Linked DNA regions of Homo sapiens. The protein of the gene in region 2 purifies or fractionates together with the protein of the main gene of each other region. This does not show direct contact. Each region holds a gene or a part of one and is shown on either strand. Other genes may lie near its edges.

Region 1 (9,548 bases), on a different chromosome or scaffold from region 2:
TTGAGGCAGGACCACTAGGAGGAGACTGTGCTCAAGCACAGAGAGGGCCCTTTAGGTTTCAAATGGAGAATTTAGCCAAACAGCCACCAGGGCCAGCCGTATGCTAAGCCCAGTGCAATGAAACACACGCTCCCAGTCAAACTTCTTGGTTTCCTAGTGGGCTATGTGCCAACAGCAACTTCACAAGGTAACAGGTGAAGCGAGGTGGGGGGCGGAGAGGAGGAAATGGGCAGAGAGCCGCTGGGAGTCCTGAGACTCAAGTTCCTGCTTCATCACTGGGGGCTCCGGGCCAGGCACTTCACTGTAATAATCCACAATCATCTCAGAGCATGGGGCAGCGGGAGGGGGCTGAAAACACACCAATTTGCAAACTACAAAGTGCTGTGTAAATGTAAGGCATGGGTTTCACATTGAAATCTGACTCCAAACACAATCTCTTTCTTACGCTTCCTGGAGTCTTTGTAATCCTATACTTTAGGAGTCTTTCTAGGCCTTTGATCCTATTCTGAGATTTGAGCTGTTGTGGCAAAACTAAGAATTCTTTAAAGCAAAAGACGCCCTTGCAATGCAGGGCTCAGAGTGTCTATTTGCAATATATCAACCAGTGAAGGCATCACATCAGGCTCCGTTCTGGATCTACAGGCTAACAACAGAGGGAAAAGGTCCTCTTCACAACCCCAAAGAGGAGTCCTCTCCAAATCCTAATCTTTAGCAGGTGCCACAGATTTGGATCTACGTGTGCTGAGAGATTCTCCACTTCCTTCCTGAGCAGCCATGGTTTTCTCTCTCATTCCACAGCTCACAGACACTGCAGGACTGGGTATAGGAATTGGCCCTTGGACCCCAGGAAACTACCCCAAATGCATTTCAGAGATGACCCGGTCTCAAGAAATATACTGAAAGTAATCCAGTTTTCCCAATATTCTTTGGACCAGAAAAGTGGCTTGAGGCCAAGAGAGAGAAGCCCATGTCTTCCTACATTAAGTGTCACGGAAAGTGTCACCCACTCTCCCTCTCACTCCTGTCTATCCCCCCACCCACGTCTTAGTGGCCACAGCCTAGGCTGAGAACTCACAGAAGCAGCCCTACTTTCTAGCACAACCTGGTCAAAAGCAAAATAATTTACAGGGGGAAAAACACGAATGAGCAGGCAATGGGGCTCCAGAAAGCCAGGTGCAAAATTGTGAAGTTCAGTTTCCCTTTCACTTTGGGAAGCTCTGCAAAGTAAGCTTTAACTAGCAAAGCAAAAACTTCTAGGCTAATGTTCTTGACTTTGAAAAATAAATTTAAGCCTTGGCTAAGTAATCCCAGGGATCTTTTTTGCCTTAAGTTTCAATGGTACTAAAGGAGTTTACAGTTGAAAGGCTGGGGAAATATGTCTTCACGAAAAGCCAAAGGAAAGCATTCAAAGCTATTCACAAACCCTGCTCAAAAGTGTCTGGAGCTCTTCAATTTAAGAAAAACTGGAAGTCTACAGGCTGGTGTTGCAAACCAAAGAAAAATAGGTGGAAGGGCACTTTATGTCACACTGTTATTTCTGCTATTGTTATTTGTTGTTCCTTCAATACTCTTTACATTGCCAATCCTAAATAATTTCCCTTCTGGTATCTGCTAATCACAGAAAGAATCAGTAATTTCCAGGGGCAAAAGGTTAAAGCACTGCTTTCCTAAACCAGGGCATCAGGGTGCAATCTGAGGATCTGAATGTTCTCTCTGTCAGGTCACCACAGGTCAAACTCATCTTCAGTGGCTTCCCTAGGTGGAGAAGTACCCACATGTTTGCTGGGCCAAACTGACTGGCCTGGCCTCTTATCTTAGAGAAGTTTCTAGCAGTACAACTTGCTTCTTGTTTTTTGTTTTTATTTCTTAATGCTAAGGTTGTTTTTTGTTTGTTTGTTTGTTTACAGAGTATTAAGGCTTCTTAGTAAAGCTTGGGGAACTATTCAACAACTATTTCCATTTTGTTTGCAGATATAATTCAGGTGGTTCCTTCCATTTGAATGTCAAGCCACACTTTGAAGCTATAAAACAAAATAGGTTGTGTGAACAATTTGTTACGGGTAGGCAGGGCCAACATGGGTACTTGGTGGGTTGTGGTTATTCCTATGGTGAGAAATATTCATGGTGATTAGTAAGGGAAGACTTTCATATTGTTTCTCTATAGCTCTCTTTAACACAATGATTTCTAAATTTCTATTAGTCTTTAATGAAAAGATGACATTAGTTGTGTTGCCTTTGGTCTAAGGTTTGCAGGCATAAATGGCACAAAGCTTAAAGTTTATTTAATAGAAAGGATAATCTAAGATGAAAGTCCTTTGCTGGTTAAAAGAGTGACTTACAAGAGATAGAAATCTAAATTTAAGAGCTCATGGGGGTTGGGGTGGGGAAGAAAATGAAAAATTATGAATGCATGCCCCATTTTTTTCCCACAAGATTTCCTGAGCATTCCTCAGACACAGTGCAACATCATAACACCAGTGAATCAATAGTATTTCTATTTTTCTCAAGCAAAAAGTATAGACTCATCAAATATATACTAAGCACAATATATAATAGTATATCATCTTTTAAACACTAGTAATTTGAACTTCTATAAATATATTTAAATAACAAACATAGCTATTCACATAGCACACAAGTGACATATAAACATACAAAAATAAATCCCTCATGTTTAACTCTTTTGTTGCTTCCATGGGTTTTTGTTTTTTTGTTTTTTTGAGTAAAGATATTAAAACAATTCAGATGCCAAAGTCGTCTTGTCAATATTGATCCTGGGAAACCTGGATATAAATTCACACTATGTATAGGGATCACAGCCAAGGACAAGAGCAGTAGACATTCTTTGCGGAACATATTCCTATCTCCTACCATTGAGTAGGAAAGCTCAAAGGAAGTAGAGGTCTCCAATTGTGATGAGATGTTTTCTCTAGCTGTTGTAAGGAAAGGAAACATTAATCAGATCCCCTAACCTGCATAAAGTGTGAAAACACCAAGCTGTCCTTTGAATGAGTGGAATATGGAACACGCCTCCTCCTTCAGCTCTCCCACATGCCACTGTCTATGAAGCATTTCTCATCACATGGAAAAGGCACCACCATTCCATACCAAAGGCAAGGAATTTTTGTTCTGCAACACCACGTTTGTCCTTCCAGTCACTGCTCTAGAAAACATTCCTCCACTCAAACAGTGATTTGGGCCACACAGCTTCCCAGTCAAGTGGAATATGTACATTCTTCTTTTGAAAAACAGAATGTTTCCATGGGCAATTACTCCTGGTAAAATTTGATTCTTGTCCATAGCATTCTCTGGAGAGCAATGAACAGAAGAGACATTTCTCACATCCCCCCTAGAGCCCCACATCACCGTGAGCTCCCAGTAGGAACACAAAAAACGCCTTTCAACTGAACTCAATCATTCCAATCTCAATGGATGCGTTACGACTGAAATGAGGAGCCCTGGTGTATTCGGTGATTATCTTCATCTAACGTGCATCTTTAGATGGGAAGCTGATGCTTGAAGGACTGGGTTTCAGTTTTCCTTTTAAGGAAAAATGTAAGCTTTTGCAACATCTTGAAGAGTTGCTTGTGATAAAATATAAGAGGAGAAAACCCTGACTTTGTCTCAAATGGAATTTTCAACAGAGGGAGAAGAAGGTGATTTCTTGAGTTCCTGGGGGGTGTCATCAGTGTCATCAGGGGCAGGCGAAGCCCGCTGCTGCTGATAGATGTCCTGGATCAGCAGGGTGTTCATGACTTTCCACTCTCTGTATTTCCTGGCTGTCAGCTTCGGGTCATCCAGCAACTGGTTAATCATGGCCAGATCATGTTCTTTACACTGTGTGAGTAGAAAAAAAGGGGAAGGGGGTATGTTGAGAGTGTCTTAATTTACATAAACCATCTTTACCAACTCTTTTACAAGTACACATATACATAAAATTACCAAAGCATTTTTGCACGTTAATGTTCTAATTCCAGCATTAAGCTTAAGAAATACGACATTTGTTTGCATACGCTAGCCGCAAAGAAGTGAAGTATCCTACCCAAGAGTTAGTGGAAGAGCTAGACATATAGCAAAGATCTTCTATGTTGCCTTTCCCTGATCAATCCATTATTCCACACCACAGTAACAATTCTACCTTGGTGTGGGAATCATGCCTCCTAAAACTTACCATTGTAGGTATTAGCATTTTATTGACAATCCAAACTTCACTAAGTAAAATTGGAACGTAACACTTTACCTAGGACATATGGCAACATAAAATATGTCTTTTAAGATTTTATTAAATTATCTTTATTTTTAATAAATCACATTTATTTAATACAGAATAAATACACAGATTATCTTTTCAGTCAAAGAAGAGGCTACTAACCTTCCATCAAAACAGTATGTATTCCAATAATGCTAATAAACAACCTATTGGTGCTATTCCATTCTGCCTCCTCTGTAACCAATGGCACACATTTCTGAAATGTCTAGCTCAGGTTAGAGTTTTCTATAGACAAGGAATGGAGTATAAATAAGATGTTCATCCTCCATATTAAAAACAAATATTCAGCCCTGACAATTGTATCTCAAATCTATGCCTGTTTTCTCCATCCCATGACCATAATCCTAAGGTTGGATATCCAGTTCAATATATCACGTTTGATCTGCTGCCACAGCCTCCTGAGCGAGACCACTGCCTCCAATGCCCACTTCAACTCCACCTCCACTTAGCAGAGCAGGGATGCATGTAAATGCCGAGTCCCCCTCATGGATCCCCTTACACCCAAGGCTCCTCACCTGCACTGGCACCATTTGTTGATACTCTGCTTCCTTTTGACTTCCCAGTCTAATGTACTGGCATGCATTTTCTCACCCACACAACACTAGCTCACACCTCCGTGTTGTTGTGCCACATGAAGAATCTTCCTTGCCTTTCTTCACCTCATAAACTCTAATTTCTAGAGTTTCTTTTACACAGAACACTTTCCAGTCTTTCTTTACCCAATTTTTTTCTTTTCTTTTCATTTTTTTTTTTTTTTGAGACAGAGTCACTCTGTTGCCCAGGCTGGAGTGCAGTGGCCCAATCTCAGCTCACTGCAAGCTCTGCCTCCCAGGTTCAAGCGATTCTCCTGCATCAACCTCCCAAGTAGCTGGGATTACAGGCATGCACCACCATGCCTGGCTAATTTTTCTATTTTTAGTAGAGATGGGGTTTCGCCATGTTGACCAAGCTGGTCTCAAACTCCTTAAACCTCAAGTGATACACCCACCTCAGCCTCCCAAAGTGCTGGGATTACAGGCGTGAGCCACTGCACCTGGCCTACCCAATTTTTCAAAACCCGTAAATCTATACTTGAGGCATCACATTGTCCAGGAAACCTTCCCTGCACTCCCAAAATTGGACTGATAAGCTTTTAAGTTTTTATGTTCTCATGCCTTCCAATGATGCCCTCTGAGAACTTACCGAGGTACATTTAGGTATTTACGGGTAAGTCATGGCCCCTCTTCTAAAGCTTAAAGAAGATGACAAGAAACATTTCCTTCATCCCTGTATTCCCTGCACCTAACGCAATGCCAAGTGCCATGTAGACATTCAATTCATGCATGTGATTGAACTACTCTTTTTGACTATCCCCAGGACAGCATGTGTGAAACTAAAACTTCACAACCACTGCCAGTAAGTGGATTTTCACTACTCTCCAGTCATCACATTTTCACATCCTTTTTCTGGCAGTCTCCCAAATGACTATTTCAAAACTCTTCTCATCTCAAACCCCCTCTCTCATCCTCACTCGCAGCTGATGGCCTTGCTATCTCTTTGTTGAGGAAATGGAAGCCATCAGAAGAGCACTTCTCCCAAGTTCCTATTGCCCACGAACTACATGGATGCAAATCTATGCTGCCTTCTGCCCTGTTCACAGAGATGGAGCATCTGTGCTCCTAGTAAAGGCCAATCCCTCCACTTGGGCACAATGGCCCCCGCTCTCCTACTCAAGAAATTCATCCCAGCAATTCTGTTCTCTCCTCTGACTCACCAACTTTCCAGATCCCCTCCAGCAGTCTCACTGGTACACATGTTTGCTGTTATTTCTTGCATGTTAAAATTCCTCTCTGCCCCCAAATCCCTGTCCAGCTAATGCTCTACTTTTTCCTGTCTCCAGTGGCCCATTCTGCATAGATTCAGTCCCATCAGGGTTTGGCCCCCACCATTCACCAAAACTGCTCTTGTGAAGACCATCAGTGACCTCCATGTTGTTAAATCCAATAAACCATTAAATCAATGTTAAACCAATGATCCATCTTCAACTTATTTATCAGCAGCACCTAAAACAATTGACTACTCCTCCTTCTTGAACAGTTTCATTGTTGTGCTCCTATGATACATTCTCCTGATTTTTCTTGTACCACAATTGCTACTTACTCCCACCTTAGTTGCTGATTCCTCCTTGTCACGCCACCTCTTCTCACTGGAGTGTTCTAAAGCCCCAGCTTGTATCCTGTTCTCTGCTCTATCTATGTTCATGCTGTTGGTAATCACAAGAAATCTCTCCCACTCTCCTATGTGCTGAGGGTCCCAAGTTTATATCTCTCCTTACTTCTTCCCTGGACTCCATCATCATTTGTCTAAACTTCCTCTTCAGCAGTTCCACATCAACCCCTAAGAGGCATCTCAAAAATAACATATCTAAAGATAAGTTCCTCTTATTCTCTACATCCCCACCCCACCAACTTCCAATGCACACCAAACCCGGTTCCTACCGTAGTCTTCCACAAAGCACTTAATGGTAACTCCGTCTTTCCAGTTGCTCAGAGCAAACACTGGAGTCATTCTTGACTCCTTCTACCACACCCAATCCACCAGCAAAGGCTGATGGTTCTACCTTCAGACATGACACAAAGCATGCCATCCTTCTGTTCAGAACCTTCCAGAGGGTCACTGTCTTACTCCGAGCAGAAGCTGGTGTTTGCAATGGCAATGAGATCCTCAATGGCTCGAGTCCCTGCTGCCCCTCCAGCCCACTGCTGCACTCCCCATGCTCCATCCCCACTACATTACAGCTACCTTGACCTCCTTGCTCTTCCTTAAATGCCCTAGGCACACTCCCGCCCCAAGGTGTTTGTGTTTTTGTTCCTTTTGCCTGAAATATTCGGCCTCAGAGAACCTCAAGCCTCATTCCCTTTCCTTTTTCAGATTTTACACAAATTATGTCTTTCAAAGAGGCCTTTCATGTCCTTCCTAATTAAATATCAATTCCTCAACATGTTCTATCCCCTTTTCTATTCTTTATCAAATCTATCATCACTTATCATATTATACATTTAATAGTCAATTATGTTTGTTTATTCTCCTACTAAAACATAAGCTTCCGGAAGGCAGGCCTTTTTATCTGACATGCCCAGTGCTATAGCCCCAAGTGCCTGAAAGAATGACTGCACATGTAGACTGTTTACACATGTAGACATTCGTTGAATACTTGTTGAAAAAATGAATATATAAAATAAGAAATAAATGAATAAATGAATTACCAATTTGCTTTTTATTCTCTTTTGCATTCTGAACCCTATTTGGAGTCTGAGGAAATCCTTTCCATTAAACAAAAAAACTAGACATAGATTCATAGATCAATAGCTGGATAGATAGATATTAATAGATAGATAGATAGATAGAAGATAGACATATAGATGGATAAAGATAGGAATCCTTCCTTCCAAAATGGAGAAAAAACAGTGCAGTAGGAAAGCAGAGGGATTGTTTATAGAAAGTTAGGCAGGGCCAAAAGAGCATATTTCTTCTTTCTGAGTTTTCAATATCTATGCTTCCAAAACAACTTTTCCAAAACAACAACAACAACAAAAGCTTTCTTCCTCTGATATCACCATACTGCTATTAATGTAAAGTTATTTAAAGAGTTTTATTTTGTTCTAAAGAAATTTAGACATCTACTTCAAAGGAAGATCCTAATTTTTCATATTAAAAAATTAAATAAGATCTTTGAAAATTAATAAAAATTGGGGAAACTGACTTTGCATACATGAATTAACCCCTCTTTATAGCTAATAAAATTTTTAGAACAGGGTCTCTTCAACTTTGGGCATTAAGCTGACACTTCTCATATGGCTTTTGGCTCTAAGTAGTTCAAATTTTTTACCATTTGGCTCAAATCTGTGTTAGTTCTTCTATGGATGAAAGAAAAAAATGTAGACAATAATACAGAAGAAGGAAATTAATGAAACAACAGAACCTTCCAAGCTCCTTCCTACACCAGGCATCCTGGGGCTGGGCCTCATCCAGCAGCCCAGCTTCTCCTGGATGGCGCATGAGGCTTTTGGAGGGCTTTGAACTACTTTCACAACATCCGCTCTGCTTTCTGGCAGGCAAGCAAGGTTTGGCAGGGATTCCAAAAATACCATGAAAGAGAGAATGCTGTACTTTCAGTTTTTACTCCAAATAGTCAGTGTGTGGCTCGACTCAAGACCTAAGCATTGGAAATGTGTTCCACCAGAGTAGCTACGGGAAGAAAGGGTTCACCGCTCTTGTGACATAGGTCAGAGTAACTCAGAGAGAGTTTCAGTTGGACCCATTAATCATTCCATTAATAACTTATTTTAAAATAAAAGCAGACTTAGCCAAAAGTCAGTGAATGATGAGCTGTTAGAAATTCCTAAATATCTGTATTTAGTGTACAACATAATACGATCAACTTTTGCTCAAGTTCAACTTGGAAGTTTGCTCAACTTCCTAGAAGAATTTCCCTGAAGTGCATTCATTCCAGTACTATCCCAGTGCAGGGATTTTTCTTATTTACGGAATGCACCTGCGGCAAATATAAACATTATTGTTAAAACAGTTTCCTTGTTTCTGCATGAAACTCTGTTGTCTTTGCTTGTCTACACTCCTACTTTGGAGCTTTTAAAACATAAACATTTCCTCTGTGTATGATATATTCTCTGTGCAATATATCATACTCAGAGAAAAGTGCACAAATAGAAAAATTGTGCTTAAAGAATTATCACAAAATAAACACTTCCATACCACTACTACCAGGGTCACAGAAGGACCCGCACCCAGCACTCAGAAGCTCCATTCACATCCCCTCTCAGTCCCATCCTCTCCTCTTCCTCAAAGACAACCACTCTCTTGACTGCTTTGAATTTTAAAAACAATTAGAAATAATTATTATACCCTTCCAACATGAACATGCACACATGTACCAAGTTCTCTCTCTCCTTTGAATAGGTTGATGCACTTTGCTTTTGTTCAGCTTCTTCAGCAAGACCAATTTCCACATCAGCATGTCCTCCTACCTCCTGAGATTAATAGGACTGCATGACATGGGTCCTGTTCTATTTCATCAGCCCCAAGCACTGCACGAGGGATCTATGGAAAGGGCTCCTTCTCACAAATGTCCAGAAAGAGCAGTTCCCTAGCTGGGTGGGGCAGGCAGCCCTGAGCGGGCCCCCAATCTTCTCTGCTTCCTGGTATTCAAGGCCTTGTGTAATCTCCTCCCTGAAAATGAGATGACCCAATGACTTGCTTCTACTGAATAGAATACTGCAAA
Region 2 (9,548 bases):
ACTTGTAATCCCAACACTTTGGGAGGCCAAGGTGGGTGGATCACCAGAGGTCAGGAGTTTGAGACCAGCCTGGCCAACATGATGAAACCCTGTGTCTAATAAAAATACAAAAAATTAGCTGGGCGTGGTGGCGGGCGCCTGTAATTCCAACTACTCGGGAGGCTGAGGCAGGAGAATCACTTGAACCCAGGAGGCAGAGGTTGCAGTGAGCCAAGATCGTGCCACTGCACTCCAGCCTGGGTGACAGAGCCAGACTCTGTCTAAAAAAAAAAAAAAAAGAAAAGAAAAGAAAAAAATATTACATAGTTAGGGCAGATATTTCAAACCCAACAGGGATGACTTTTGGATTACCGGTTACTTGGGAGTTGGTGTGGATAATGGAGAGGTGGCCACAAACTAACACACATCCCCCCCAAACAGCCACACACACTTATAGGCATTCAACCAGGAATGGAAAATATGAGGTCTTTTAGAAATGTTAAGTCCAGTTGGTATTGCTCCCAAACATAAGACTGTCTTGGGGGTAGAGGGGTGGGTGGTGTTTCAGAAATGCAGATCCCCAGGCCTGGGCTCCAGTGATGCAGTCCTCCATGAATAGGGCTGTAGAACTGGCATTTCTTCTTGTTGTTGTTTTTTGAGATGGAGTTTCGCTCTTGTTGCCCAGGCTGGAGTGCAGTGGCACGATCTTGGCTCACTGCAACCTCCGCCTCCCGGGTTCAAGCGATTCTCCTGCCTTGGCCTCCTGAATAGCTGGGATTACAGGTGCTCGCCACCACGCCCAGCTAATTTTTTTGTATTTTTATTAGACGTGGGGCTTCATCATGTTGGCCAGGCTGGTCTTGAACTCCCGACCTCAGGTGATCCACCCGCCTTGGCCTCCCGAAGTGCTGAGATTACAAGTGTGAGCCACTGCACCCGGCCTAGAATTGGCATTTCTAACAAGCTTTTGGGTGGGTCTTATGCACAGCTGGCCCCGGGAGCCCCTGGGCTGGGGACGGGTTGTGGGAGCCCAGCTTAGCCCACAATTAGGTGGGGTTTCTCCCCAGTGAGGCCCCAGGCTTTGCCAGGCTGCCGGTAGCCTGGTGGGCACTTGGCTTTGCCCCCACGGCAGCTCTGGAGCCTCACCAAGCCTCCAGGGCCCACCCTCCTGCCCAGCTCTGTGTCTGGCACCTGTGCCTCCTTCCTTCACACCCACTTTGGTGACCCTCACGGCTGCTTGTCCCCTTGAGGTACTGACACTCACTTCCCAGGGAGGGTGCCCAACCTTCTGCCCTAATTGAGGGCAGGGCTATCCCCGCTCAAGCAGGACACTGGAATGAAAGAACTGTGGCCCATTTTGCTAGGATTGTTTTTGCTGTTATATGGGTTGGTATTTTCAGGAATTTTCAAGGACGGGGACAGAGGTCATCTTTCTTTATCCTGAGATTCTACTGATACGCTCAACTTGCAAAAGAGTCATTGTGAGTGTGTGACAGTCCTTTTGTGTGGATCCCCAAAGAAAGCAAGGTGTTGCCAGTTCCTTTCTCCTGCAGGATTTTTTTTTTCTATCAGTGAAATATTATTAAAATGTCTTAACATTTGTTTAGTGCCCTATATTTTATAAATAACACATCTTTGTGCTTTTTTATTGTGTAATGAATCCTCACAACTCTGAGGTGGGTGGGATTGACACCAGTTCACAGAGGAGAGTGGGGAGGTGCAGACTCATGAGCAGCATACACGGCATTCTTGTTGTTTTCTAGATACCATCGATAATGGGGTGGGTGCTGTCGCCAACATCCCTCGAGGCGTGGTGCGGTGGCAGGACTTGTCCAGGGTCCCGCAGCTGGTCCATGGCAGAGAGGGTTTCTGAAGACTGTACGGTGCTTCTCTTACCACTGTGGGGGAAGTTGTGTCCAGACCACATGGCTGGTCTGTGGTGGCCCCATCCCTAGAAGCATCCTAACTCTAAATCTAGATCTCTTTCCACTTTGGTTCCGTCCTGGCCCTTGCACAGCTCTGGGCCCACAAGAGCCTGTGGTTGGCCGGTCCTGGATTTCTCGAGCAGAGTGGCTGGGGCTGGCGACTCCTACGTACGCTTTTCCTCTAGAGACCTCTGGCTCTGTTCATGGCAGCAGGGGCAATCAGGGACCGCAGGCTTTCCTGGGTGTCTCGCAGAGCTTAGGAAAGTTTGGGCCAAAGGGTGAGAGGGAGAGGAAGAGTGAAGGCCGTTCCCTGTGGCGTGCGGGGTTGGTGGGTGAGGTGCTGCTCCCGGAGGCCCCAGGGAGAGTGGGCTGCAGAACCGGCGTGTGGGGAGCCCCTCCCTGTGGGTGCATTCACTTGTTCATACACGGAATTGCCTTTCAAATGCGGTTGGTGAGCTCACAGTGAAAAAGGCTTCATTGCAATTACTCTGCAAAGAGAAGAATTACTTGCCACTTGCTTATCCCTGACCTCCTCTTTTTCAGGTTTATTCATTGAATATCTCCTTATTTGGGGGCACTTTATTGGTTCAATGAGATGAGTGACATTTTCCAAAATGGTAGTACCTATCCTATCCTGTTCCTGTTGAGTAGGGGACTCAGCCTGAAGGTGGCAGCCCACTGTGGCTGTCCCACACGCTTCCTCGTCTTCTAACATGAGGGGGCGGGGATTGTTGTTAATTTCCTGGGTACAACCCCACATTCCCATTTGCTGGGAGCCGGTGGCATAGGAGACTCCCTGTGAAGCCTGGCGGGAGAGCAGTGGCCCAGAAGACTGGGCTGAAGGAGGCCTGCGGCACGCTGGTGACAAGAGCCACAGCAGCCTCACACAGCTTGGGGGCAACTGACCGCTCCCACCGGAGAAGTCCAGAAAGCCAAGCTGCGTAGGTCTTGGTTCAAAGTGGGGGCTTGCAGATTTGCTACAAGTCTCTGGTGGCCACGTCAGTGTCCATTCCAGCCACGCTGTTGGTGCTTCTGGGCCCAGATGTCACCTGCCTCAGGGTCCCAGCACCCTCGAAACTGGGTTCTACCAGGAGAGTTTAATAAAGGGACACTGCAAAATGCAGGTGGAGCATAAGGGAACCACAGTGGCCGTGGCTCGGAACAGCAAGGCTGTCACCTCTTCTGGGCCTGAGTCGGGGACGCAGCCACTGCATCCTGGAAACAGCTGAGAGGGCTTCCTTCCAGGTTGGATGGCCACAGCCAGCCTGAGGGAGCCCTGCAGGGTCGGAGCTGGGGGAGGGGAACATATCCTGACCTAGAGTCTCCAGCTGCGGCTCCCACTTGTCGGAACCCACGGTGGGCTCCCTCTTTTCTAACCCAATGGGAGTCTTAGATAAGAGTGAGCCCACTGTGAAGTCCATGCAGATGGCGGTGGCAGGGTGGAAAAGAGGGGGATTGGGGAGCAGAGGAAGGCTCAGTCCTGGACAGCAGGCTCAGTGGGGCCTCCCCCACAGGTGAAAATAACCCTTGTGCTACAAGGGCTGGAGCAAACCAGGTCAGCAGTGCCATCCCTGCCCCGTGTGGCTTCCAGGGTGGCTGTCCAGTCCGTTGTCTAAAGCTGGGACACAGGGAAGGGAGACACGGCTTCCACGCAAGTCAGGGGCACCAGGCCCACTGCAGCCCACCGCCGGCAGAGACCCGCCACCAGCAGGTCCGAAGCTCTGAGCTGCTTTTCCTGCATTGGGGTGGTGGGGGAGGAAGCAGTTTGACTTGAAACTTCCAGCGAGTCCCCAGGGTGTGCAGGCGCTACCTTGGCAGAAAACCGTCAGCCTCAGCATGTTCTTTGAACATAATAACTGCATCTTATCTGCATTCTTCATCCCTTCAGAAATATTTATTTTTAGTTTGGCTTTTTTGCTTATTCTGCACAATCACTGCAGCCCCTGGAGGTGTGATGAGCCCACCCCCATGCCTTCCCTCTTCTGTCCTAGGGTCCTCGGGGTTGGGGTGGGGGCCTCAGCTCCAGGGGTGGCAGGCCTGGTTCCGCCTCCTCCCCGCTAGGGTGACCCCGCAGGCCTGGGTCAGTGGAGGCCTGTTTTGTGTTCTGTGGAACATAGGGGTTGGGGTTGGGGACATGCTCTGTTGGCCTGGCTCTGACCCGTGACTCACTTGGGCGTGTGTTCAGATGTGGGTGAGTGCTTAGAAACCCAGGGGAAGAGGCCTGTCCACAGCAGAACCCTGAACGCTGTGGGCCTCTGTGGGCTCAGTGCCAGGCTCTGCCACAGGGCAGAGGGCAGAGGGCATCAGGGCAGCCTGGCCCAGTTCAGAAATGGAGTTTTTTTTTTAAACCTTCCTTTCATCATTGCCTGTTTTCTTCAATATTTGTATGCATTTACATTTTTATCAGTTTGCCATCATCTGCGTATATGTCCTTTATTCCTTACACACATCATAAAGTGGTCCCTCATTTCAGGTCTTCAGCATCCCTGGCTTCAGGCTTCAGTTCCACCAGGTAGAGATGCCACAGCTCACTAGCCGCCATTGGCTTTTAAGTGCTTTTCTTGGCTTAACATATGACTCACTGCTGCGCTTCACCTTCCTGGGGCTGAGATGCGTCGGGAGCAGCTGGGCTTGGTATCGGCCCCACAGGATCCTTAGGCAGGTGCCTGGCACCTGAATGCCCACAGCACACCTTGATTACCTTTCCATCTTGGGTGTCTCCAGCCGCAATCTCTCTGCTGAGCCCTCCTGGCGGCAGCAGGGAGGGTGGGACGGATCTGTTCCCAGGGAAAGTTTATTGACAATCTTAACATATTTTATAAACCCTCTGGGGTTGGCAAAAATCTAGCCTGCGTTTTGACAAACACATTGCCCTCAATGTTTAAGCCGACATGTATTTTAAGGGAAACAGAATCTGCAGTTTCTTCAAATGTTGACTTAATCCGTACATTGTTTTCTTAGCGGCCTGGTATATGCCCTCCAGGGAGGCTGGAAAACTTTTTTGTTAAATTATGTTTCTTAGAACTCAGGAAGTTGCGTTTTTCCAAGAGTAACTGAACTTAAACTCAGGGGGTCGGGGGAAGGGGTGGATGTGAATTGGCTTGAAACTACCCAGGAAATTCTAAATCCCTGTCTACCCAATACCAGCTGTCTAAATGAAATTTTAAAATTCTATCAAAATTCTTAATGTAATAAGTATGTCCCCCAAATGTGTGGATGTTTGAATTTGTCCATTGTCTCATCTGTAAAATGGCTCTTAGTTCTAACAGTCTTTTGATTTGACTTCCTGGTCCCCGAGTTCCTCAAATCCAGTGGGCCTTCCTGCCCAACACGTTCTGCACCTGTGGGTTCGTCTAACCACAGATGAAAAACATCCAGGAAAAAAAATTCCACAAGGCTCCAAAAAGCAAAATTTGGCTTCCCTGCTCACCAAGTCCTACACTGAATCCACACAAGTGAAGCGATGTGTAGCCATCGCAGTGGGTGTCATAAGTAACCTAGAGATGAACTGAAGTATGCAGGAGGATTGCATAGGTTATGGGCAAATACTACACCACAGGGACCTGAGCGTTGTGGAGTTTGGTATCTGCAGGGGATCCTGGAACTAATCCCTGATGGGTATTGGGGGCAACTGTATATATTGGGGGACAACTGTATACACACCATCTTTACCTGAAGGGCAGGCCCTACTAAGATCAGAGACCCTGAGGGCCCCCAGGGCTGCTAAGCAATGCCTGAGGCATAAACATTGATCTGGCAGCCAGGGTGATAGTCAAGCTATCTAACTGCACCCATGAGATAGAGTCCCAACCAGCTGGTGGGGTAGCTCAGGTGCTGAGACCCCAGACACCCTGGCATGGCCCTCCACTCTTGGCCCTCCATTCTGGCCACATCCCGGCCTCATCAGTCATCTCTACCGATCACTCAGACTCTGGCCTGGAGGTGCCCCATGGAGCCAGTCCCTGCACGCCTGCTTTCCTAGCCGCTGTTCTCCCTACGGGCACCGAGTCACCCTCTTCCTGGTCTCCAGTGCTCAGGCTTCTCTCCCGAGCCCCAGCCAGCCGCTGCCAGTGGGGTGCCGAGCCCTGCTGACCACATGCTGCCCTTGACTGTCTTCCCTTCTGGGCCTGGAGCTCCCTTGGAGGGCAAGGCTGTGTTTCATTGTCTCTGTGTCTATGTTAGTGTCCTGGGGCTGCTGTGACAAAGGAGGATGCTTGGTGCCTGGAAACAAGTGAAGTTGATTCTTCACAGTGCTGGAACCCAGAGGGCTGAAATGAGCGTCCCTGGGATGAAAGCAGGGTGTCAGCAGGGCCACATCTAAACCCTGCAGGGAACGGTCGGTTCCTGGCCTCTTCCAGCCCTAGTGGCTGCTGGCATTCCTGCGCTCGTGGCCACATCCATCTCTGCCTTCACCTTCACGGCCTCCTCTTCCGAGTATATCACATCTCCCTGGCCTCTCTCTTGTAAGGACATTTGTGGAGATATATATATATATATATATATTTTTTTTTTTTTTTTTTTTTTTTGAGGCAGAGTTTTGCTCTGTCACCCAGGCTGGAGTGCAGTGGTGCAACCTCAGCTCACTGCAGCCTCCGCCTTCCGGGTTCAAGCAGTTCTCTGCCTCAGCCTCCCGAGTAGCTGGGATTACAGGCGCCCACCACCACGCCCGGCTAATTTTTTGTATTTTTAGTAGAGACGGGGTTTCACCATCTTAGCCAGGCTGATCTTGAACTCCTGACCTTGTGATCCACCCGCCTCGGCCTCCCAAAGTGCTGGAATTACAGGCGTGAGCCACCGCGCCTGGCCACTTGCGGTTGTATTTAGGACCCCCCGGATAATCTAGGATAATCTCCCCAGTCAAAGTCTTTACCTCGTCACATCCACAAAGACCCCTTTCCAAGTAAGGTCACATTGACAGGTTCCAGGGATTAGGACCTGCTGTCTTGGGGCCGTCATTCTGCCTACCACAGTATCTCTCCCCAGTGTAAGGAAAATAGCGAACATGTGCCATTCCCTCTGCGGCTGCCTCTGTCCTCAGTCTGCGCTACATCCCGTGAGGCAGGCATTGTCCCCATCCCAGGTGAGGAAATGTGGAATGCAAAAGCTGAAAGGTTTGAAAAAGACTAAAAGGAGATGATAAAGAAATGAGGAGGGAAGGAGAGGAGGGAGGAAGGCAAGAGTGGAAGCTGAGGAAACAGAGGGTTTAGGGTGCAGGCGAGTGCCCCTGGATTGCTCCTGCTGTTGATGGCTGCTGTGAAACCTCAGTTCTTGTCTTCTTAGTTTAACAGAATTGAAACAGGAGACACACAGCAAAGGAGATGCAGCATAGAGCAATGTATTGCACAGGAGGAAGAATACCCTGAAAGTTAGGTGCAGAATAGGCAGGACGCCCCAAGAGGGGAGTCAGGGTAGGCTGCCTGTGAGGATGAGAGAGCAAAGACCGGCTGGAGGGAGGATCCCTTTTTAGGAGTCTTACCTGATTATTCATGAGCAGGTGGGCAAGGGGGTTGCTGGGAAGCATGTTCTGGGTGCTCATGCACAGTGGCTGTGCATCCCTGTTCATACGTCACATGTCTCACTGGCATCTTAAATCTCCATCCAGGGGTGTGTTTTTTACTATTGTAATGAGCAAAGGGTCACTGTGAGGACCGGTAAAAATCAAAGTGCACGTGCTCTCTACAGGGGAAAGTCCCTACTGAAGATAGCTTTGCTTGAATGAGCTTGCCTGCAGTGCGAATGCTGGGGCTTATTGTGTTGACGGCGCAGTCGCCATGGTTGCTGCGTCCTGAGGACATGGTTACTTCCCTGACTATCTGTCGTGCCTCACTGGTACCCCGTGCTTTCTGAGAATCACTCAGACTGAAGTCATTCTTTAAGAAGGATGAGTTGAGGGCTGGGCGCAGTGGCTCACGCCTGTAATTCCAGCACTTTGGGAGGCCAAGGCAGGCAGATCACTTGAGGTCAGGAGTTCGAGACCAGCCTGACTAACATGGCGAAACCCCATCTCTACTAAAAATACAAAGAATTAGCCAGGTATAGTGGTATGCGCCTGTAATCTCAGCTACTCAGGAGGCTGAGGCAGGAGAATCACTTGAACCCGGGAGGCAGAGGTTGCAGTGAGCCCAGATCGCGCCACTGTACTCCAGCCTTGTGACAGAGTGAGACTCTGTCTCAAAAAAACAAAACAAAACAAAACTAATGCTAATTGACTCCAGCTTGTCTCAAACACTCCCTACATCCTGCTTTCTTCCCTTTTCAAACATTGTTCCCAGAAGAAAAGCAGGAGCTGGCATCCCCAGTACGCTCACATCTCCCCTGTCCCTCATCTGCAGGACATGAAAGCTATGTGACCTTCTGCCAGCTGGAGGATGAGGCTGCCTTCACATGCAGCGCCGACTGCACCATCAGGAGGTGGGACGTGCTGACCGGGCAGTGTCTGCAGGTGTACCGAGGACACACGTCCATCGTGAACAGGTCAGCCTGGCTGGGGGCTTGGGCTGAGTCTCACCATACATAGGCTTCTGGTGGGGCTGAGGGGTCAGAGATATGGGCCCCTGCACGTGAGGGCCCTTGGCTCTCTGGGGAAGCAAAAACGTGGACAGCTGGGAGGTGGTCAGTAGCACCCAGCGACGTGGACCCAGGACAGGCAGCGAGCTCAGTGCCTGCGGCTGCATGTGGGGCAGGGAGGCACTGCCCATCCACTGAACAGAGCCTGATGCTTCCCCCTTGGGGGCACAGTGGCTCCCCGCTGGGTGCAGGGAAAAGCACCAGAGCCTACAGCTCGTAGGGATGGGGACAAATTCCATAGGAAATGGCTTAATTGAGACCCGATGGTGGACCAAAGGTTTGCAGGAGGAGGAGTGTGGGGGATTGTTCCGAAGACGGAGTTGAGGATATTTTTAAGCCTCTCCTTTCTTTGTAGCTGTGGAAAATATCCCAGCCCCTCCTTCTCAAGAAGGTTGGAATTGTTCCTTTCTCAATGAATTTGGGTCTGAGCTGAGCAATGGAAATTCCTTTGCTGATCAGATCAGTTGGACACTGTTGGAGTCACTTGTGGTGGTCACCTCGGACTCCCGAGGGAGGCCTCCTGGCGCCCCTGGGCCTGGCAGCTGCACTGGAGGAGGGGCGCTGCCTGGAGGGTGACCCAAGTAAAGACAGGGCTGGCGCAGGCTGGCACGAGGGGGTCCTGAAGGTGGGGCTGGGGGCGCAGACCAGACAGGATGAACCCCACCAGAGGAATGCTGTTGGTTGAGCTCTGACAGGAACCCCCAGTCAGTGGACCAGCGCATGGGGGGACAGGAAAGGCAGTGAGACCCATCAGCCCAGCTCGCTGGAGTCGCAGGTGGCTGCAGCCAGGAATAATAATCGATAGTCGATGGACGGGGAGCTGGGTGACACCCTGAGGAGGAGGCTGAAGGGATGCGGGGACTTTTTAGAGTGAATGGGGGGTATATGCAGACACAAGGTAGGGTGGCCGTCTGGCCCCGGCCTTCCTCAGCTGAAGCAGGTGAGGCCCTGAGACCTGCCCAGGCAGCCCACAAGGTGGTAAAGAAGGGGCTAGAGTGAGAACTCAGGGCTCACAGCTCCACTGGCCTCTTCCCAGCACTCTGACTTCCCTGAGAAAGAAGTTTGCCATGAAAGAAG

Evidence for each region.
Region 1: the proteins of WDR86 (region 2) and IPCEF1 purify together in Homo sapiens (affinity purification with mass spectrometry; 2 studies listed by BioGRID and IntAct, with this or other methods). This does not show direct contact.

Annotation. Positions count from the first base shown.
Region 1 is NC_000006.12:154,156,204-154,165,751, forward strand, and holds part of IPCEF1 (interactor protein for cytohesin exchange factors 1), read right to left. Parts: intron 3,838-9,548; coding exon 3,625-3,837; 3' UTR 1-3,624. UniProt on the Homo sapiens protein: Enhances the promotion of guanine-nucleotide exchange by PSCD2 on ARF6 in a concentration-dependent manner.
Region 2 is NC_000007.14:151,398,930-151,408,477, reverse strand, and holds part of WDR86 (WD repeat-containing protein 86), read left to right. Parts: intron 1-8,236; coding exon 8,237-8,378; intron 8,379-9,548.